Regions from separate parts of the Homo sapiens genome. Here region 1 is linked to region 2. The links come from fine-mapping of genetic effects on gene expression. A gene starts in region 2. The other region holds a variant in brackets. All regions are shown on one strand. Distances are from middle to middle.

Region 1 (10,190 bases), 30 kb after region 2:
GGTGATTGACTCAACCTGAGACGTGTTGATATTGATGGGTAGTTAAGAGCACAGGACTAAGAGCTAAGAAACATGGCTCTAGACTTCTCCTGCCACTTGTTACCAGTCACCATGAAGCAAGATAGCTGCTTCTGAGCCCTAGTTTCTTTATTCTAAAATGACTTCTGAGATAGAGCTATGCCTAACACCAATAGAATCCTGGGATTATTATGCTTCCTCCCTTCCTCAGCAAAATCCCATAGCATCTAAGGCCATGCCTTCCCTACATAGAGAAGTGCTGACCAGCTTTCTAGCTCACTTGGTACGCTGCTCCCCTGACATAGTTTCTTTCTAAAAGCCTCTTTCATCAATGAGGGTCATAGACTCTTGTTCTCCATCTTCATGACTCCCTGGTACACATGCCTCCCTTGTGAACATTTCCTTGTATGCACGTCCTGTGATTGTTTATGTTCTGAAGTATGTTATATGCAATATCCAATAGTGTCATTCCTCCCTATATTTCCCTTCTGTGATGCTTTCTTGGTTGCTCTCTCCCTTTCTTTCTCCCTTCCTTCCTTCTTTTCTCTCTTCTCCTTCTCCTTCTCTTCTCTTCTTTTATTTCCAGAGTCTTGCTCTGTTGCCCAGGAGTGCAGTGGCGCAATCTGGGTTCACTGCAACCTCTGCCTCCTGGGCTCAAGTGATTCTCCTGCCTCAGCCTCCCAAGTAGCTGGGATTACAGGCACATGCCATCATGTCTGGCTAATTTTTGTAATTTTAGTAGAGATGGGGTTTCACCATATTGGCCAGGCTGGTCTCAAACTCCTGGCCTCAAGTCATCCACCTGTCTCGGCCTCCCAGAGTGCTAGGATTACAGGCATAAGCCACCATGCCCGGCTGACTTTTTCTTGTTACATTTTCATATGTGCCTTCCTCTACATTTTCCCCATAGGATACCTCTTCCATATTTAAATAAGAAATATAATTAAAGCACAAAGGACTATTTTGGTTAGTGGAGAAACAACCAAAAATTAACAAGATAGATTCTATCTTCAGGGAGCTTATAGAATTATAAAGTTTCAGATCTACAAGCGCCTTAGAAATCATCTAAATGACCCCTTTCGCTTTATAATTGAGAGCATGGGATTCCAGAGGAATTAAGCTCTACTCATTCCATTGAGAAATAGTAAGAGCAGGATCTGACACAGGTCTCATTGCTGCATGTCCACAGTATGATTCTCGGGTTTTCATTCTATTTACTCACTAATTGTTGGCATTAATACCTAAAGCCCAAGGTAAAAAAAAAAAATGTTATAACTGAGTTGTAAAATGCTCAGTGAAGAGGCCTGATACAGTGGCTCATGCCTGTGATCTCAGCACTTTGGGAGGCCGAGGCAGGCAGATCACTTGAGGCCAGGAATTCGAGACCAGCCTGGCCAACATGACAAAACCCTGTTTCTACTAAAAATACAAAAATTAGACATGTGTGTTGGTGCATGCCTGTAGTCCTGGCTACTCGGAAGACTGAGGCAGGAGAATCACTTGAACCTGGGAGGTGGAGGTTCCCATGAACCGAGATTGTACCACTGCACTCCAGCCTAGGTGACAGAGTGAGACTCTGCCTCAAATAATAATAATTAATAATAATAATAATAATAATAATTTTAAAAAATAATAAAATAAAATGCTCAGTGAATAATCATCCAAACTTTTAAAAGCAAGGAATGGATAGGACATCACTATCTTCATATTATAAATGAAAATTTTGGCACACACAAAGATTTTGTAACTTGGTGAAGTTTATAGAATGAGATCAAAATGATGATTTTTCTAAGAGTTCAGTATTCTATTCCCTACTCTTGACAAGTCATTATGAGTATTGGCACTGACCAGGGTCATGTCTCTCATTCCGTGTTATTCCCATCCCATCCCCATATGTCCTTCATGCTAAGAACGGTAGCCCTAACCTACAGGCGTATTCCTGTGTCATTCTAGGAGCAGCAGCGCTGACTGGTGCCGTTTCCCACACAGTCTCCACAGCTGTGATTTGCTTCGAATTAACGGGTCAGATTGCTCACATCCTGCCCATGATGGTGGCTGTTATCTTGGCCAACATGGTGGCCCAGAGCCTGCAGCCCTCTCTCTATGACAGCATCATCCAGGTCAAGAAGCTACCCTACTTGCCTGACCTTGGCTGGAACCAGCTCAGGTCAGGGGCACTAGACGGAATTAGTTCAGATCTGATGGGGAGAGTGGGAGGTTCTGAGGCTGAGACTGAGCTTAGAGTTAAAGTTTGGAAACACTGTTTTAAATTATTATTATATTCTCATGCACCTAGTAGATATTGTGAGTGACTGAAAGTATGGCAAATCTTATGGGAGGAATGGAAGGGATAGGTATACGGTGGGGCTAACCCACCATGCTTTCTCCCTCCATAGCAAATATACCATCTTTGTTGAGGACATCATGGTACGTGATGTGAAGTTTGTTTCAGCTTCTTACACATATGGGGAGTTGCGAACCCTGCTCCAGACCACCACAGTCAAGACTTTACCACTGGTTGACTCAAAAGGTCAGTGGGGAGGAAGAAGTCGACTCCAGAGCTAGTGACCTGAATAAGGGTCACATAGAGGTAGAGGAGGCCCCATGGTGGGGGCTTTGTCTTTAGGGGCCATCCAATGTGCTATGTACAAGGAAGGAAAAATTAAGCCATAACACAAGCACACAAAGACAGTTAAAAATGCAATTAAAAGGTCCTGGCATGGTGGCTCATGCCTGTAATCCCAGCACTTTGGGAGGCCGAGGTGGGCAGATCACCTGAGGTCAGGAGTTCGAGACCAGCCTGACCAACATGGAGAAACCCTGTCTCTACTAAAAATACAAAATTAGCTAGGTGTGGTGGTGCATGCCTGTAATTAGAACCCGGGAGACGGAGGTTGCGATGAGCCGAGAACGTGTCATTGCACTGCAGCCTGGGCAACAAGAATGAAACTCTGTTAAAAAAAAAAAAATTTCCCACTAAATACAGTCAATTCTCATAATTCATGGTAGTTATGTTCAATTAAGTATGAAGTTCAAATACTATACTGAATAATTGCTCCTAGGAAAAATACAGGGCTGTGTTCCTGTGAGTCTCTGGTCACATTTCCATCAACCAATCAATATATGACCTTGTTGTATGTGTGTTTCTGGTAAAGACACCTTATTTCACAGATATTGTGGATTAATTAATATTGAACTTGTGCCAACAGCACTATAACCCTTGCCTGAATTAAGCTTACTTAACACACATATTTTCTCAATAAGGCTCATCACAGCCTTCTTGCACTAGGAACAGTAAACAGCACTTTGACATTATATTTGGTGGTCATTTTTAGCAGCAAAATCACCAACACAAAGCACAAAAATGCAAAAAGGATGGCACTAAATAGACTACAAAATGAACACCTGTTTACAATGTGAAAGCTGAAACAAGAAGGTACAGCACTGCTTTGTTCAACTTCAGCTGGGAACAGGGACATGGGACAACTAAAAATCTTTGTTGCTCTTTGCATGTTTGTGAATTACAGTGAAAGCACCTCTAGTATTGGTTTTGTGTTACAAATATATTTTAGTGACTAGCTGAATTCACAAATAGGGAATCCATGAATAATGACAATTAATGTAAATCCCATAGCTTCTTACGTTGTTCCATTTTGATGCTTACATAAGTCATGCTTGTTCTTTAATGCCCAACTTATGGAAGAGTTGGAACTGTTTTCTTTCTTCCTTCCTTTCTTTCTCTTTCTTTCTTTCCTTCTTTTTCTTTCTTTCTCTTTCTCTCTCTCTCCCTCCCTCTTTCCCTCTCTCTCTCTTTCTCTCTCCCTCCCTCTTTCCCTCTCTCTTTCTCTCTCTCTCTTTTCTTTTCTTTTCTCTTCTTTCTTTTCGACAGAGCCTCACTCTGTTGCCCAGGCAGGAGTGCAATGGCGCCATCTTGGCTCACTGCAACCTCTGTCTCCTGGGTTCTAAGTGATTCTCCTGCCTTAGGCTCCTGAGTAGCTGGGATTACAGGAATGCACCACCATGCCCAGCTAATTTTGTATTTTTAGTAGAGACGGGGTTTCACCATGTTGGCCAGGCTGGTCTCGAACTCCTGACCTCAGGCGATCCACCAGCCTTGGCCTCCCAAAGTGCTGGGATTACAGGCATGAGCCACTGTGCCCGGCTGGAACTGTTTCACATGGAGGAGTGAATGGTTGTTAGTAAACGATAATTTCACATTTCTCTGCCTTCACCATCATTTGACACTTCATCCTGCTTTGTATGATTTCTTATTGTGGTTTATATATCTATATCTTGTCTTCCTAACTAGGTGGGCATTCCTTGAGAATAGAGGCTATGAATTCTATATACCCAGAGTGCCTTGTTATAGGTATCTACTAGATATTAAATGAATAATTTCCTAGTGTTTGAATTAGTGTAATAAAGAAAAATCATGTAGGGCCATTTGGAGTCATTAAGATTGTTAGTTCTGATTTCCAATAATCAGAATATCCAAATTTCTCAAATTAAATTAATTCAAATATTTTCCCAAATCTCATATACATTCCACGTTCTACAGCAGAGGCTCTTTATTAGAGGAGGGGTACAGCCAACAAATGAGGGGCAAGGTTTTCATAATAATGACTGAGACCTAACAGTAAAATTCATCTCCAGAGCACTGCTGCAATGTCTTGGCCTTAAAACTTAATAAAAATGTTAACTATAGTAGCAAAATTTCTATAATCATATAAAAGACCTTCTCAGGAAAAGTAGGCATTTTGATTTATCCTAGCAGGGTTTTTTTTTTTTTTTTTTAATGAAATCTCGCTCTTGTCGCCCAGGTTGGAGTGCAGTGGTGCGATCTCAGCTCACTGCAACCTCTGCCTCCCGGGTTCAAGCGATTCTCCTGCCTCAGCCTCCCAAGTAGCTGGGATTACAGGCGCCTGCCACCACGCCCAGCTAATTTTTTTATTTTTGGTAGAGACGGGGTTTCACCATGTTGGCCAAGGCTGGTCTCGAACTCCTGACCTCAGGCGACCCGCCTGCCTCGGCCTTCCAAAGTAGTGGGATTACAGGCGTGAGCCACCGCCTGGCCCAGGTTTTTTAAATGATGAAATGTCAGATACAAAAGAAAGAGTTCCCTTGTTTCCCTTTTTCCAGGGAGAGATATAATGTTTGTATTGCTTATAGACTTCTTTCAAAGCGTGTTCACGTCTCAGCTTATTTGAATGGCTTCTCATGTTTCTTTTTATTTGGACAGCATTGATTAGCCTCCTTAATTATCAGCTCACCTATCTGAAGTCTATATAAGGCCTCATCAAAATAAGTACAAATTAGCCCAATTAGTGCTCTACCAATTGGCCCCGTACCTGCTAAATGGATGAAATAAAAGGGATTGAGTGAGGTTAATCTTGGAGGATTCTTAAAATGAGTTTCCAGGAAGCTGAGAAAGATGTGGGGACGCCGGGCAGGGTGGCGCCTCTCCTGTTCCTTCTCAGGAGTGCGGAGCGCGGTGGTGCGAGAGGGCTTGGAGGGGGCGCTCAGGCAGGGCGTGGGTTTCCCTCAGATTCAATGATCCTGCTGGGCTCGGTGGAGCGGTCGGAACTGCAGGCCCTCCTGCAGCGCCACCTGTGTCCTGAGCGCAGGCTGCGCGCAGCCCAAGAGATGGCGCGGAAGTTGTCGGAGCTGCCTTACGACGGGAAGGCGCGGCTGGCTGGGGAGGGGCTCCCCGGCGCGCCTCCAGGCCGGCCCGAGTCCTTCGCCTTTGTGGATGAGGATGAGGACGAAGACCTCTCTGGCAAGAGCGAGGTGACCGCGCCGGGAAGGGCTAGGGAGTGGGATAGATCAGGAGCAAAGGGAAAAGCGTCGTCTGGGCTGGGCTGGGCTGGGCTGGGACAGGCGTAGTTTCCCTGAAAGTAGTGGGAAGAGGGAGGGG[A/G]GAGTCTGGTAACTGAGAAAGCCAGAAATTCTGGATCAGGTACCATAGAGACCAGTGCCTCTGGGTCCAGGGACTAAAGAAGATAAGGTTGCAGATGATGGTATCCTCGACAATTCAAAGGGATATAGGAATTTCTGAACTGGGGGGAAGAATAGAGTTCGCTTTCCCAGAACATCCACCAACTGGTAAAGGCAGTGAAGGCCCAGGCAGTCTCTGCTCCCAGGCTGAGACTTCTTACTCTTCCTTACAGCTTCCTCCTTCCCTTGCTCTCCACCCCTCTACTACTGCCCCTCTGTCCCCAGAAGAGCCCAATGGGCCTCTGCCTGGCCACAAACAGCAGCCGGAAGCACCAGAGCCTGCAGGTGACGCTCTTCCCTCATGCACCCCAACTCACCCCTTGTGGGTTCTCTCTGGTCACTAGGACCTGACCTTGACCTGCATGCAATTCCTATGCGGGGTGGGGTGGGGGGTGAGGCTGGGGGATTGAGGGAGGACAGGGTTCTTATTCATCAATTCTCCTTGTTACTGTCCCAGGGAGTGGGAGCAGAGGGTGATTTAGGAGGGTAGAAGAGAGGGTGAGGTACCTGGGAAGTGCAGCTCTTTGGAGGCAAATGTTAGGCACTGGGTGGGGCCCCTGGCCGTTTCCTGTTGCTTTGTGTCCATTTCCATCCACTCACCTGTCCTCTCAGGTCAAAGACCCTCCATCTTCCAGTCCCTGCTTCACTGCTTGCTGGGCAGAGCTCGCCCCACAAAGAAGAAAACAACCCAGGTGAGAGGAGATGTGTTTGGGGATACAGGGGAAAGGGAGCCTGCCCTTGAAGAGTGAGAAACCCACGGTTCTTAAATCAGGAAGGCAGAGACCCCACCAAGGAGGAGGAGTTTAATCATATGGAAGGGATGATGAATGAAAAGGAGGCATCGGTGGTCCTGGCCAGGGAGGGATGGCTATTGTTTCATTGGGAGCCATAGCTACCATGGGAAGAAAAGGGAAAGAACTTGGACCTATGTCTTTCTTCTCTAGGATTCCACAGATTTAGTGGATAACATGTCACCTGAAGAGGTGAGTAAGGGAAATGGAAACCTGGGGTGGATTGTTCTATCAAATGAAGATATTGCTAATTTGTTTCTACCTTCTTTATTGTGTTGTCATGAAATAGAATGTGGTCTGGATGGGAAGTGTTTTGAGAGGATGGAAATAAGGATGATTATGGAGAGAGTAATGAGTGTGTGATGGGACATGGAGGTGTTCTCAGAAGGACACGTCATTTCAGAAGAGAAAAACTTTGAGCCTCCATGAGTAAATGGGGCCATGGTGCTAAGATGAGCCCCAGATCTTTTAGAGATTATGGGCTTTCTGGATCAGGCAAAGCTTTAATGGAGGTAAAATGGCACCAGGAGGCTGGCACTAAAACAGCAACATAGAAGAAGAACATCAAAACTAAAATGGGAGGCCGGGCATGGTGGCTCATGCCTGTAATTCCAGCACTTTGGGAGGCCAAGGCAGGCAGATCACCTGAGGTCAGGAGTTTGAGACCAGCCTGGCCAACGTGGTGAAACTCCATTTCTACTAAAAATACAAAAATAAGCCGGGCATGGTGGCACGCACCTGTAATCCCAGATATTTGGGAGGCTGAGGCACGAAAATCACTTGAACCCGGGAGGTGGGGGTTGCAGTGAGCAGAGACTGCACCACTGCACTCCAGCCTGGGTGACAGATCCAGACTTTGCCTCAAAAAAAAAAAAAAAAAAAAAAACTAAAATGGAGAAATCTGCTCCTGGTGGAGATTACTGTGCTGGATTGATCAGGGCCCTGAGACAGTGAACAACTGGAAAATGCTAGGCATTGCTACTGGGAAGAACTGAAAAAGGAAGAAAATAATGACCACGGTGCCTCCTGGGGACAAACAAATGCCTATTTTCCTAAACGAGGTGGTTATCAAATCTTCAAGAGAGAAAAATCAAGCATTCTGAATGTGCTTGGTTGTCAGGAGGGAACAGAATGTGGACTAGTGATTGGAAGCAGGCGGTATCAGAACATACCGAGGGGTTGTGGAGGAACATCAACAGAAAAATCCATTGGCAACTATTCCATATGGTAAAAGAATGCAGAGTTTGCTGCAAACGCCGAAAACGTAAAGCTTGTAAAGTATGAAGCTGACAAAAAAAACACGGCAGATATTATTTTTAAATGAACATCTTATTGGATATCCAGAATAAATATGTGCTGACAATGAAAAGCATTACAGGATTGGAGGAGGATGTTGTGAGTGACAAGACAGAAGAGAAACCTTCCCCACCCCCTCAAAACACACACACTTCTGATAAATGACTTGTGAAAAAGTCAAATCGATGATCACAGAGGGAAAGGAAGAACTATTCCTTCTGCCCACAAGCAGGAATCAGAAAGGCCATAATTGCAGTTAAGGAGTACTTTGTTAGGTTGCTAAAACCAATAACAATAAGTTTTGCTTTTTTTCTTTTTTTTAATTTAATGCACCAAAGAGAGAAAACCAGCTAGTTGATCAGTGTGGCTATTGAATGACCACTGGAAATAAAGTGAAGCCAGGGATTAAAAATAAGATAGACTATCATTTCTAGCTTATGTCTTTCCCAGGGAAGACTTTAAGGAGCTACCAACTCCCATGTGACCCACTGAGACATTTTAGAGGGATAAGATCTAACAGGAGTTGAAATTCAGGATGTTTTGAACACAATTTTCAGACCAGATGATACCCTTGACAATATCAAGATGTTGATATTGACCAAAAAAACAGTATGGGGGCAGTATGGGAATATTGAAAGATTCAATTATATGTTGCCAGAAGTCCCTACTAGGATTTGTTTAATTCTGCATACTCTGGAGTACACACAGAGCTCTGTTTCTAACCGGTACCGAGCTTATTCAAGTAGTGGAACACACCAGCCTCAACAGCAACGTCCTGCATCCCTTGCGCAAAAGCTGGAGATGTACCTGGAATACAAACAGCAGTCAAGGTTAGAAGCCCAGCTCCACCAATTACTGACTGTGTAATCCTGGGCAAATGACTTCAACATGCTGTGCCTCTGTTTCCTCATCTATAAAGTGAAGATAATGATAGAGTTATTAGAGAAGATTAAATGAGCTAAGACGGGTAAGTCAATTAGAATAATGCTTGGCAAAGAGGATGTACTTGATAATCATTCACTGAAAATGTTGCCGCGTTATTGTTAAGGAAAGGCAAAAACGGAACATAAGGCCACAGATGATCATAGAAAAGACCAAGAGGACGGGATGGACCAAACCATGGTTGGCAAGGTCTAGCCCCCGTCCTATACCTAAATCTTCTCTACAACACACCTGCTAAGTGGTCATCCATCCTATGCTATGTAACCTCTGTAATCCATTAGTCCGGAAGATGAGAGTATAGAGGAGTCATGATTGTAATCCAGAAATATCAGGACAGGACAGGTGGAGTGAGCATCACTACGGGCTACACACCAGATCCTAAACCTATATAATGCCCTTTGGTGATATTCTCTGAAGTTTGAGAGGTGTAGATTTGGACAAATAGGAAAATAGAGTTCTAGATCATTCAGAGGATACTGACTGAAAAGAGATTTTAGAAATTTTAGAAAAATGTAAGAGAGCCAGAGATGTAATGGATTATTTGGACTCTTGGGAATTTTGGTGTGCGTATCTAAAGTCAAGAGGATGGTTGGCCTTTGTGCCTTAATGCTTCTGTCATAGACAAAAACAAACAAACAAAAACTGGCTTTGCTCAAGTCAGCTAAGTGCCATGAGGTCCAGTATAGCTCTTCAATTTCAACAAGTACCCACTACAGTTCCCTGCATGAGAGGTGATGTGCTAGTTTCTTCACAATATACAGCAGCCGATACCACATAACACTCAAGACAAATGCAGAGGTAAGACAGATGCCAATACAGCAGGAAGTATGGCCAATGTCATTTCTGAAAAGGTGAGACCAGCTAATACTATGGGAATAAAAAAGGGGAGAAGCACATCTGATTGGGAGAGTCAGGAAATACGTACACTGCAGGGAGAGGGTAGGGCAGGTAAAGGAACTCCAGATGGTCAGAATAGCAAAGACAAAGGGGAAGGCATGTTTGAAGAGCAGAAAGCAGTCTGGTTTGATTGGAGCCCCACGTCTTATAGTAGTAGTGGAAAATAGATGGGAAAGATAGGTTGGGAATAACAAATGTTTGGGACGCCAGGGGATAGGAGAGTTGGAGCCTAGAAGAGGGAGGGGTGTTCTGGGT
Region 2 (13,055 bases):
TTTAAGGTCTTCTAGAGTGGGCATAGATTGTAAGAGAATTCTAGTGCAGCATAGAAGAGATCAAAGCAATGAATTTGTGTAAGTTGGGATATTTTGGGGGTGCATTGTATCTAAAGGATATGCCTGAGAGGTAAGTGCAGGTGCAGATGGGCCATGGAATTTGGCAAGAGATGGAATGTTCTGTAGGAACTTTGTACAGAAGTTTTGGTAGGAAACAAAACTTTTTTTTTTAAATACGGGATTTCACCATGTTGGCCAGGCTGGTCTCTAACTCCTGGCCTCAAGTGATCAGCCCGCTTCGGCCTCCCAAAGTGCTAGGATTATAGGTATGAGCCACCTATAACAAACCAGAAACAAAACTTTTTTGTTTGGTAGGAAACAGCTGTGGGAGCTGGAAATATTGTTGAGTCATACAGAGAAGGGTATGGCAGTCTAGGAAGAGCAGAAGGGGATTGAGGTGAGCTGAAGCACCTCGGCAGATAGAGCAGAATTTGGTACAGAACACTGGAGACAAAAGGGCATGAAAAATGGACTGAAACTGGTTGGTTGTACTGCAAGAAAAACAACCATGGGATAGCCTCAAGGGAAGGATACAAAATCTAGGACAGGCGAAGAAATTATGGAAATAGTGGAAGTAAGATAAATACCCATTTTCAGGATAGGAAGCATTTTCAGTGGTGTGATATGTTTGAGAATTACAGAGCAGTATCTCTGAACTGGATTCCATGTCCTCCCCGCCCCCCAACCCCCTTGCCCTTGAATAAGGGTATGAGGTTGAATTTCACAGCTCTGCTCCCTTCTGCTTACCTCTGCCAGAGGATTCTCTTCTAAAATTATTCCCCTCCCAGAGCTGGGGGCTGCCCTCTGCTGCCCTCCTCCATCCTGTTTCCTCTAATAGGGAAAAGGAAAACAGGAAGAAGGAAAAACTGTAATATCAGACCAAAGCTGATTTTTTTTTAATTTTTAAAATTTTATTCTATAAAATAGAGATGAGGTCTCACTATGTTGTTCACACTGGTTTCAAACATCTGGGTTCAAGTGATCCTCCTACCTCGGCCTCCCAGAGTACTGGGATCACAGACATGAGCCACCACACCCAACCAAAGCTGTGATATTAAGAATGGTGCCAGACTGGCCGGGCGCAGTGGCTCATGCCTGTAATCCCAGCACTTTGGGAAGCTGAGGCAGGTGGATCACCTGGGCTCAAGAGTTTGGGACCAGCCTGGGCAAAATGGCAAAACCCCGTCTCTAAAAAATAAAGAATGAGGCCAGGCACAGTAACACATACGTATAGTACCAGCTACTCAAGAGGCTAAGGAGAGAGGATTGCTTGAGCCCAGGAGTTGAAAACCAGCCTAGGCAACATAGTGAGACCCCCATCTTTAAAAAAAAAAAAAAAAAAACACACACACAACACAAGAGGAAAGACGTCTAATCTGAGAAGGAGGAAGACATTAATAATAGCTACAACTGTTTGAGTCCTTGGTATGTTGTAGGCATTGAGAGGAGCTTTCCATTTCATCTTCCCCATGCTTCTGTGAAGGAGTCATTTTCCCTTTTGTTTTTGAAACAATTTTGCTGTTGTTGCCCAGGCTGGAGTACAATGGCGTGATCTCAGCTCACTGCAACGTCTGCCTCCCAGGTTCAAGCGATTCTCCTGTCTCAGCCTCCCGAGTAGCTGTGATTACAGGCACACGCCACCACACCCAGCTAATTTTTGTATTTTTAGTAGAGATGGGATTTCACCATGTTGCCCAGGCTGGTCTTGAACTCCTGAGCTCAGGTGATTCACCCACCTCAGCCTCCCAAAGTGCTGGGATTATAGGCGTGAGTGAGCCACCGCGCCTGGCCACAAATGTAGCTTTAACGGTATGGACTCTAGAATTCAGTAGATCTGATTTTGAATGCCGGCTCTGCCTTTGAAGATATTGGAGACCTTGATCAAGGTAGCTAACACAGCCCCAATTTCCCTTATTTGAAAATGAGGAAAATTGTGTCTACCTTCCAATGTCCCTATGAGGATTAAATGTGATGATGCATGTAAATCACATGGTGTTAATGCATAAAAAATGCTTGATAAATGTTAACTCACAGAATGAGCTTCAGTTTAATATGAGTGAACAGTTCTTACTATGAATCAAACACTATAGCACATTTTTGTTTTGTTTTGAGATGGGGTCTCACTCTGTCGTGAGGCTGGAGTGCAGTGGTGTGATCTCGGCTCACTGCAATCTCCGTCTCCCGGGTTCAAGTGATTCTCCTACCTCAGCCTCCCGAGTAGCTGGGATTACAGGCGCACGCCACCACGCCCAGCTAATTTTTGTATTTTAAGCACAGACGGGATTTCACCATGTTGGCCAGGATGGTCTCAATCTCTTGACCTCGTTATCCACCCACCTTGGCCTCCCAAAGTGCTGAGATTACAGGTGTGAGCCACCGCACCCAGCCTATAGCATGTTTTTTTGCATGTGTTATTTTATCTTCTTAACCCTCTAGTTACTTCCTTTCTGAGGAAACTGAGGTCAGGATGTGAAACCAAAGCTGTCAGTTTGAGCGTATGCTAACAGCCTTGCTTCTGTGACTTATTCTGGCATGAAGGATTTTTTTCTTCCTTTTTTTGGGCTGTAAGATTCCTCCCATTGGGCTGTGGGAATGAAACTGAGACCCAAACCTTATTCCATCTTAAGTCCTAATTAGGTAGGAGTTTGGGGGAAAATGTATCATGTTTGAAAAGCCAGAAGGGGGAGAAGGAGACCTGTCGAATACTACAGGGAAAGCCTGACGTGCAGGGGATGGGAAAGGACTAAGGATGCTTAAAGAATAAGGAGGCTGGCTGGGCGTGGTGGCTCACGCCTGTAATCCCAGCACTTTGGGAGTCCGAGGCGGGCGGATCATGAGGTCAGGAGATCTAGACCATCCTGACTAACACGGTGAAACCCCATCTCTACTAAAACATACAAAAAATTAGCTGGGCGTGGTGGCGGGCGCCTGTAGTCCCAGCTACTCCGGAGGCTGAGGCAGGAGAATGGCGTGAACCCGGGAGGCGGAGCTTGCAGTGAGCCGAGATCGCGCCACTGCACTCCAGCCTGGGCGACAGAGCGAGACTCCGTCTCAAAAAAAAAAAATAAAAAAGAATAAGGAGGCAAGCCACAATAAAGAGGAGAGGAGACATGACCGCCAGTGGCATACAATACAAAGTGTCTTCAGAGGAAGTTGTAGCTTAGCTGAAATTTCAGAAAGTAGGTGGCCACGGGTTCCATGGCTGCCTGGATATGCAGAGGGAAAGTGATGACTGAAAACACCTTTAAAGAACATAAGGGTTTTACTGCCCACTATGCTGGGGAGGCCAGACTGGAAGACGTGAGAGTCTGAAAACAAGGGTGTAACCCAGAAAGAAAATTCTTTCACCTATACCCAACACAAAACTTCTCCTCCATGTATCTTGCATGGCAACTTTTTACGATTTTCCTTCAAATAGCAATTCTATAAGCCTATGGGCTTTTAAACTTTTTGTATAATGGACCCTAGGATGATCTATTTAAAACCCCAAAAGAGGCCGGGTGCAGTGGCTTACACCTGTAATCCCAACACTTTGGGAGGCCAAAGCGGGCAGATTACCTGAGGTCAGGAGTTCAAGACCAGCCTGGCCAACATGGTGAGAAACCCATCTCTACAAAAATACAAAAATTAGCCGGGCATGACCGTAAGTGCCTGTAATCCCAGCTACTCGGGAGGCTGAGGTGACAGAATCGCTCAAACCCGGGAGACGGAGGTTGCAGTGAGCAGAGATCGCGCCATTGCACTCCAGCCTGGGTGACAGTGAGACACCATCTCAAAAAATAAATAAATAAAATAAATAAAACCCGAAAGAATATATATCATTTATGCATGCTTATGAATTTGCTTCCACATTCAGGAGCCTTACAGGAATCCCTAGAAGCCCATCTTTGTGCCTCCAAATAAGAACCTAAGCTACTAAGCCCAGCGGGATGATGGAGTGAGGAGTGGGCATGGTTTACATTTTCTTTTCTTGTTCTCTTGCAGGGATTTAAACCCATGGGATTTAAACTATTCCTAATTTCAAACACAGGATATTTACTCTCAAACCCTTGCCCACCAGCACTGGCAGTCTGTACATGTCTTTGACCCTCCTAATTTCAGAATCTGGTTTTAAGAATCGCAGTTGGTGCTTTCCTTCTAGACCACACGCTTCCACTCAGCTTGGCTGGATGTGAGCACTTCCCTACTCCACTGGTCTCTGCCTTCAAATCTCAGAGTCCATGACTAGGCTGCTCTGTTTTAGGGCCCTGTCTTTCTCAGAAATAGTAAGAAAGTCATAATTGTATCTCATATCTTGCTGCTTATATTTATCAAGTTTCTACAGCAACTGATCACTTTCAGGAAAGCTATACTCCTCAAATGGGAGAATCTTGTTTCTGAAGTCCTCCAAGGAATGCAGTGTTACCTTGGCACTCTATTTTTTTGTGTGTGCAACAATGTCTTTTATTATGTATGCGGTTTTAAAATTATTTCTTGAATCTCTCCATACACAGGCAAAAAATAAGTGTGCTACTTAACATACTGGAACTTGCCTAACTTAATCATTGCCCAGAGAAGGGAAAATTATCACCAAAATGTGCTTAACCAGGAGGCCAATGCATCTGCCAACCTCCAAGAACATGGAGATGAACTTGACAGACAGACTGTCCACCATCTGAACCTTTATTCACCACCATTTGATAACCCTTATTCAGGCCCAAATCAGCAGCACATTTCTTGCCAACAATCATTAAGTGTCCAAGAAGACTTTCGTCATTATCTTCTGCTGCAGAAATCTGGGATATATGTTTTTTCGATATCAACAGAAAACGTGTTGGTGCTTGAGGGGAAGTGTCATGGAAAGCAAGGCACTGGTCATCCTCAAAAATGATTTTGGCTGGGATTTCCTTGCAGATGATCTTCCCGAAGACAGTGTTGCCACCAGGCCGAGCGACCTGAGCCTTGGCGATCTCACCTGCCATCTCTGCCTGTCTCCCACACAGCAGGCAGGGTAGAGGCTCAGAAGGAGGGAGGAACCCACAGATTCTATTTTCTTTGTTAAGAAAGTAATCCTTTCTGCTCATACCAATCCCATAGATGTCTATCCTTATTTTCTGCCTGCAGAAAAGGTGGGTATCATCACAGAATGTTTAGTCTCTCAATTCATCACACATTTGTAATTTTTTGGAGAGATTATAGGCCTTGAGGTTTGTAGGATTGTTGTTAGAGCAGGTGTTTTGTTTTTTTTTTTTTTTAGCTACATTGGTGTATAATTGACAACTAGAAATTATACATATTTAATTACTACTTGAGACCGTGATTACAGCAGTTACTACTGTTACCACTTGAAACCATCATTATGACCGAACAAAGGGACGAATGTAGAAATGAAAACTTAAGACAAAAGAAACTGTTTTAAGGAAAGGCAACATGAAGAAGAAGAGAGCTCCCTGCTTCTAGTGAGCAAAGGCAGCTCCCCTGCCGAGCTTCTCAGCCCTTCATATTTACTGGGTAACAAGAACAAGAAGGAGGTAACGATTGGTCAGCTGCTGAATTGATCACAGGTTCATATTGTTACTGACAAGCTTCAATTGTACCTAATCATAAGAAACATTTGTGCGGCCTCCAACAATGTACAACTTGATGTGTTGATATATGTGTACATTGTGAATGATCATCACAATCAAGCCGGTTAACATATCCATCACCTCACATAGTTGCTTTGGGGGTGCAGGGAGGTGAGAACATTCAAGATCTACCCTCTTAGCAAATTTCAAGTATGTGGTATTACTACCTATAGTTACCATGCACATTAGATCTCCAGGACTTTCTCATCTTGTATAAGTGAACCTTGTATCCTTTGACCAAATTTCCCCATTCTCCCACCCCCTACTCCAGCCCAGCCCCTGGCAACTACCCTCTACTTTCTGCTTCTATGAGTTTGACTATTTTAGATTCCACATACAAGTGCAATCATGCAGTATTTTTCTTTCTGTGTCTGCAATGTTTGACTTAGCGTAATGTCCTCCAAGTTCATCCATGTTGTCACAAGTGGCAGGATTTTCTTCTTTGTCAGGGTTGAATAGTATTCCATTATATATATTTATATACACATGACATTATTCATCTGTTAGTGGACACTTAGGTTGTTTCCATTTCTAGGCTATTGTGAATAATGCTGTAATGAACATGGGAGTGCAGATACCTCTTTGAGATACTGATTTCCTTTCCCTTGGATGTATGGGAGTTGCTGAGTCATATGGCAGTTCTGTTTTTACCTTTTGAGGAACTTTTATACTGTTTTTCATAATGACTATACCAGTTTACATTCCCACCAACAGTGCACAAGGGTTCCCTTTTCTCTGCATTCTCACTAACATTTATCTCATCTTTTTATTTAATTTTTTTTTGAGACATAATCTCACTCTGTAGACCAGGATGGATTGCAGTGGTGCCTTCCCAGCTCACTGCAGCCTCCACCTCCCGGGCTTCAGTGATCCTCCTGTCTCAGCCTCCCAAGTAGCTGGGACTACAGGCGTGCACCACCACACATGGCTGATTTTTATAATTTTTATAGAGACAGGGTCTCCCCATGTTGCCAGGTTGGTCTCGAACTGCTGGGCTTAAGCATTCCACCCGCCTTGGTCACCCACATTGCTGGGATTATAAGCATGAACCATAATATCCATAGCCATAATAATGGCTATCTCTTGCTTTTTTGATAATAGCCATCCTAACAGGTATGAGGCGATATTGCATTATGATTTTGGTTTCCTGATGATTAATGATGTTGAGGCCCTAGAAAAAGTACTTTTAATGATATTGGCTTCCCTCCTGCTTTGGGTGGTTCCATTTAGCCTAGGTCAAAATCACATTGTAGACCAGATGTTTGGTGTCCCTACCCTGCAGTCCCTGAACTTGGACTGTCCTGGGACAGACCCCACTTGGTAATGCATCCTAAACTTTACTTTGGCTCAGTTCATATCTTTTCTCCTACAGTGAAGAGTTCATAGGGAAGACATGTCATAGGAAAATTGGTTTTATAACGTGATGCCAGGAAGAAAAGTTTGTCCTTGGCCAAAAAAGTATTTATTGACCTGAAAAGGGAAGAATAGCAGAGAGCACTTCCCCATCATCTTTCATGTTTGTCGGGCTTGTCATGAGAAGCCCTCACCCCTTTCCCACCTCTCCCTTCCCTGTGCCTCTTTCTACTTTCGATTCTCCCCTGTTATCTCCCTTGTTATCTATCTGATGGAGCCAGTGTGGGCACTCCACAGTCCAAATGGAAGCTCAGTCCCTCCGGGTTGGCAGTGTGGCTGACACCTAACAGTCTGGGAAGTGGGAGAAATTCTAGAACCCAAGGCTATTACCGACCCTCGACTTCCCACTTCCCATAAGTGTTCCACACCCAGTGAGTGATAAGGATGGGATCAGGGGATGCCCCCAAGCTGTTATTAGCAGCCTCTGGCAGACAGAAGGGCAAAGAGCTAGAGAAGAACGCTGGACATGGGATGGGCTGGCAGAGCTGGCCAGACAGAACCCTGGGTGGACACAGAGTTGGGAACAAGCTGGCCAGGAGATGTGGCAGAGAGGCACCAGTTACTTTCCCAGGTGAGTTAATGTGCCAGTGTTTCCAGAACTTCGAGTCGCTTCATCTTTATCCAGCACCCACCCCTCACCTTCCGCATCCTGAAGAAGAGAGATGGGCAACTGGAGGGCTTCCATGCAGATCCGGCTCTACACATAGGTTTGAGAGCATACTCAGCAGTTTCTCATCCTGGTCCAGGCGATATTTATAGAGGGACCAGTGACATGGAGCTGGAAGCCTACTACTGGTGACTAAGAAGGGGGACAATGCCACTGGCTCAGCAGAGGGAATTCCCTGTGGGGCTGTCCCTCAGGTTCTCATCCCAACCCCCACCCCCACACTGCACTCACACCTGCTTCGACCCCAAGCAGATCAGATGTGGCAGTGGGGGGTCATGTGACGGAGAGGGGTCTATAAATAGCTGGAGGTGGGCATGCTGCCCCAGACGCCTTGGGGACAGCAAGAGCAGAGGCTTAAGGAGCTACACTGGGGGAAGGACAGGGGCAAGCAGGCCAAGGCCTGGCCGGGGCTCGGGGGGAGGGAATATGGAGCAATCCCGGTCACAGCAGCGTGGGGGTGAACAAAGCTGGTGGGGTAGTGACCCCCAGTACCAGTATATGCCCTTTGAACACTGCACCAGCTACGGACTGCCCTCTGAGAATGGGGGCCTCCAGCACAGGCTCCGGAAGGATGCAGGCCCCCGCCACAACGTCCACCCCACACAGGTAAAGTGCTCTAAGGGGAGAGGGGAGCCATGGATGAGGGGAGACAGTGGTGCCAGAGACTGGTGAAAATGAGGAATTGGGTGAAAAGAGGGAGCAGTGTTACATTTTTTTAACTTAAAAAACAAGTACGTGGTGATGTGTTCAAAATATGAAAATCTTTGAAAGTCTGGGCTCACTTAAGTATGCACTTAGAGAGATATGCATGCACTTTCATACAACCTTTACCAACAGAGTACCCAAATCATATGGGGAAACAGCAGAGCCTCACATGCATGAATAGCTCGTGCTTACATAACCTACGTGGAGTGGATTGCGTAGGAGCCCACACTGCAGTGTGCTGGGAGCTGTCTCCCACACCCTCACCCACAGGTAGACACTGCCAGATTTCTGCCTCTGGGACCCTCTGCAGAATACACACAAACATGAATCTTTCTGCAGAAGGCAGAAGAAAGGAATTGGGCAAGTGTAGAAAACAGACTGAATTGCTTATCAGTGATCAAAGATCTACCAACGTCAAAATGAGCAGAGATGTACAAGCTTTTAGGTCGCAAGATGATCAAGTAAGAACCTATTAAGTGTTAGGCACCTGGAAAAGGGCAGAGATGTGATCCCAGCAACAGAAGCATGCAGGCTAATTAGGAGTGTCTATGGATGAGCAGCCTCCCGCTGTGGGATTGGTGGGATATGAACACCTAGGAAAGGGGGAATGGGGATGGGCACAACTAAAGGAAAGGTTGTGAAATTGTCATGGAAAAAGATAGGTCATGGTTAATAAGTAAGTGTGCCTCTCCCTCCAAAGAATGCAGAGAATAACAGAGGATAGAATTTGTCTAGAGGGCAGTTGGCCAGAACTTTTTTTTTTTTTTTTTTTTTTGAGATGGAGTCTCGCTCTGTCTCCCAGGCTGGAGTGCAGTGGTGCTATCTTGGCTCACTGCGACCTCCGCCTCCCGGGTTCAAGCAATTCTCTTTCCTCAGCCTCCTGAGTAGCTGGGATTACAAGCACCTGCCACCATACCTGGCAAATTTTTGTACTTTCAGTAGAGACGGGGTTTTGCCATGTTGGCCAGGCTGTCTCGAACTCCTGACCTCAGGTAATTCACCCGCCTTGGCCTCCCAAAGTGCTGGAATTACAGGTGTTAACCACTGTGCCCAGTCTGGTCAGAACTTAAAAGGCTTTTTTTTCTTTCTTTTTTTTTTTTTTAACAGGGAGCCTTCAGTTCCTTTAGGTTTAAGGCTGGGAAGCTGAGGCATGAGCTATGCAGGGGATCTCAGCACTGGGGGTCAAAAGGATCTGCTCTCAGTCCCTGACCAACCCCCAGGAGTATTTGCAAAGGCAGCGCTAGGGACCCAGTAGGGAAGAGGGACATACAGGTCAGTGTAGGCTGGAATCGAGCATTGGGAAGGTTTCTTGGAGACAGCGGGGTCTGACTAGGCCTTTGAACACTGTGTGGGATCAGCAGGAGGGAAGACCCCTCCCCCTGGCCCTGTGTTCTCACTCGTGTACATGGTTGTATCTGGGTGGGATGGCAACTTGAGTAACAGTGCCATTATGGCACTTCCTGATGACAGTTCTCGTGTTGGGAAGCTATGGTTAGTTTGGGGAGTAGAATTGGCCTGTTTTCTACAGGTCTCAAAAGTAAACAAGAGTTTGGATTAGTTTTTCTTTGTTTAATTTTTATTATGGAAGACTTACACAAAAATGGAATGGTATAGTGAAGCCCCAAGTACCCACCAGTTGTCAATATTTTGTCACTATTGTTCCATCTATTCTTCCCTTCCCCACCCTCACCACTCTACACACCATGGAATACTTTTTTTTTGTTTTTTGTTTTTTGTTTTTTGTTTTTGAGATGGAGTTTCGCTCTTGTTGCCCAGGCTGGAATGCAATGGCGCGATCTCAGCTCACCGCAATCTCCGCCTCCCTGGTTCAAGCAATTCTCCTGCCTCCGCCTCCCAGGTAGCTGAGATTACAGGCATGCGCCACCATGCCTGGCTAATTTTTGTATTTTTAGTAGAGACGAGGTTTCTCCATGTTGGTCAGGCTGGTCTTGATCTCCTGACCTCAGGTAACCTGCCCATCTCAGGCTCCTAAAGTGCTGGGGTTACAGGGGTGAGCCACTGAGCCTTGCTTCCACCTTGGAATACTTTTTAACAAATCCCAGACATTGTATCACTTGTAGACTTGAGTTTTGACTTCTCCCTTGCCCTCCCCTCACCCTGCCCTGCATGGGACCAGCCAGAACAGATCTGGCCCTTTAAGTGTTTTCCCAGCCCAGGTATGATGATATGAAGCAACCCCCTTCCTTGTCTCCACTGGCCTGGGGCCTTGAGGAGCTGAGACAGCCTCAGCTGTCTGACTTCCACTGGGAAGTATGTTCTCTCTCTGGGTCCCACGCAGGGTTTGGAAGGAAACACTGCCTCCCTCGGTCACTGACCCAGAAGACAAACAGCCATGAGCAGGGCAATTCATGTGCGTGCTTGTTCAGGACTGCGGTGTAAAATGCTGCTCATATTGTGAAATCAGATCTCTTCTACTCAGGCTCTCCCAGAATCCAGCAACATGGCCTGGCCTGACCCTGGCCCCAGAGGACAGTTAGTGTAGTGGGAGTGGGGCAGGCTAAAAGTGGTTGGAGCTCTTGTATACCCCACACAGACACACGTGCTCTGCCTCAGGATGGAAGCGGAGGGCCACCAGACCTGGGGGAGCTGCTCTGTCCTCTTCACATGTGGGGCAGGTAGGGGTCTAATTATCTAGCTGTGGGAAGAAGTAGATGGACCTGCCTTTTCGGGCTAGTTCTTGTGTGTGCATACAAGCACTGGGAGATGAAGTGGATGGTCTTGAAGCTTGATAGAGGACCTGAGGTGCCTCAGGTAAGGCTAGACACACCAAGGCAAAGTGCAACCAAGACTGCCCTGCTAGTTAGCCCAGTCTGTCCTCACCCTGTTCATGTTAGGAGAAAAGTCAATGCAAGTGGTCTGGGGAAATTGTGGGACATACAGAAAGCGCAGTGACACAAAACACCTGATTGATATGGCCACCTGGGTTCAGCACAGTTCTGTACCTCTGCTTCAAAGCAAAAACTGGCCTCCTTGATAAAGGCTACCCTGGATCAAGGTGAGTACAGGTTGGAGAATGGGTGTAGAGAAGGTAGGATGAATGAACAAGGGAAAGGGTGGGAAGTGTGGGAATGGAGGGTGGAGAGTAGAGGGCAGGGATGACCACAAAGTCACCCTGCATGCAGTCAACACCCAGAATTCAAAAAGCTGTTGTTCTTTTCTTCTGTGAGTCTGTCTGCTGGCCTCTGTCTATTATTTTTTTAGTCTTCCACAAGGCAGACACTGATCATTCTCTCTCTGTCCAGATTTATGGCCATCACAAAGAACAATTCTCAGACAGGGAGCAGGACATAGGGATGCCCAAGAAGACAGGCTCCAGTTCTACCGTGGACAGCAAGGATGAGGATCACTATTCTAAATGTCAAGGTGATGGGGACTGAGGAATAAAGAAATCTGGAGTAGAAACAGGTACAGGGATTAGGAGAATAACTTGGGCATCCCATTGCACGTACGTACTCCCTGCCCTGCTACAAAAACTCTCCTCTAATTGTTTTTAAGAGACAGGGTCTCACTCTGTCATTCAGACTGAAGTGCAGTGGAGTGATCATAGCTCACTGCAGCCTAGAACTCCTGGGCTCAAGTGATCCTCCTGCCTCAGCCTCTCCAGTAGCTGAGACTATAGGCACATGCCACCATGCCCAGCTAATTTTAAAACTTTTTTTGTAAGGATGCTGAGGCTGGTCTTGAACTCCTGGCATCAAGCAATCCTCCCGCCTTAGCCTCCCAAATTCCTGGGATTAGAGGCGTGAGCCACCATGCTTGGCCCCTCTAAGTATTAAGGAAAAGGCACCTCTCTTCACCTCCTTCGCACTTTGCCTATTCCCTGTTATTCCTCCCACAACTCCAAGAAATGAGTTTTAGGAAGGAATTCAAGTATTCATGGGGAACTGGGCTTTGGTGCCTTTTGCAGGGGCCGGAGCAGCAATCAGCAGAGGGGTAATGAGAAACTCAGTGCATAAGACATACGGACCCTGGGGGCCCAAGGCTTCCCCTCCCATCTTGGGTATAGCACCCAAAGTAAAGTAGTGACTCGTTAGCTGCTTTTCTCTCTCTCTCTCTCTCTCTCTCTCTCTCTCTGTCTCTACATATATATATTTTTGTTTGTTTGTTTGTTTGTTGTTTGTTTGTTTGTTTTTTCCCTCATCTCTTCCTAGATTGTATCCACCGCCTGGGACAGGTGGTGAGAAGAAAATTAGGGGAAGACGGGATCTTTCTGGTGCTTCTGGGACTGCTGATGGCTCTGGTCAGCTGGAGCATGGACTACGTCAGTGCCAAAAGCCTTCAGGGTAGGTTTAACCTGGACCTTTGCCCACAGCCGTTTCTGGAGTTTCTACCTAGGGTAAGCAGGGTGTGTTATCGGAAGCGAATGTTAAGCAGGGTGTGTTATGGGAAGCGAATATTGCGCAGAGAGGGATCAGGTGGGACTCCAGGCCCAGAAAAGACCAGACCCAGGCCTGCTCCACTTCTCACGCCCCTCCACTCACTGCCACCCAAGCAGTGGATGCCCCTCTAATAGGGTGGCCAACTTGCCCCAGTTCCCCAGGGACTTTCCCAGTTTCAGCACTGAACATCCCGAATCCCAGGAA

The links.
Region 1: its variant is fine-mapped to the expression of CLCN1 in whole blood (INTERVAL, PIP 0.98).

Annotation. Positions count from the first base shown.
Region 1 is chr7:143,339,958-143,350,147 of GRCh38, forward strand. It overlaps CLCN1 (chloride voltage-gated channel 1), which reads left to right. Exons shown (of 23, transcript NM_000083.3): 15 at 1,972-2,185; 16 at 2,415-2,548; 17 at 5,564-5,805; 18 at 6,183-6,294; 19 at 6,622-6,701; 20 at 6,954-6,992. Among named protein-coding and RNA genes, the nearest start is that of FAM131B-AS1, 17 kb to the right of the region's middle. RefSeq lists silencers at 5,459-5,753, 5,560-5,639. The variant A/G (reference allele first, on the strand shown) is at 5,933.
Region 2 is chr7:143,308,041-143,321,095 of GRCh38, forward strand. It overlaps CLCN1 (chloride voltage-gated channel 1), which reads left to right and starts at 8,071. Exons shown (of 23, transcript NM_000083.3): 1 at 8,071-8,352; 2 at 11,715-11,835; 3 at 12,624-12,755. The coding sequence starts at 8,173. It also overlaps the pseudogene HINT1P1.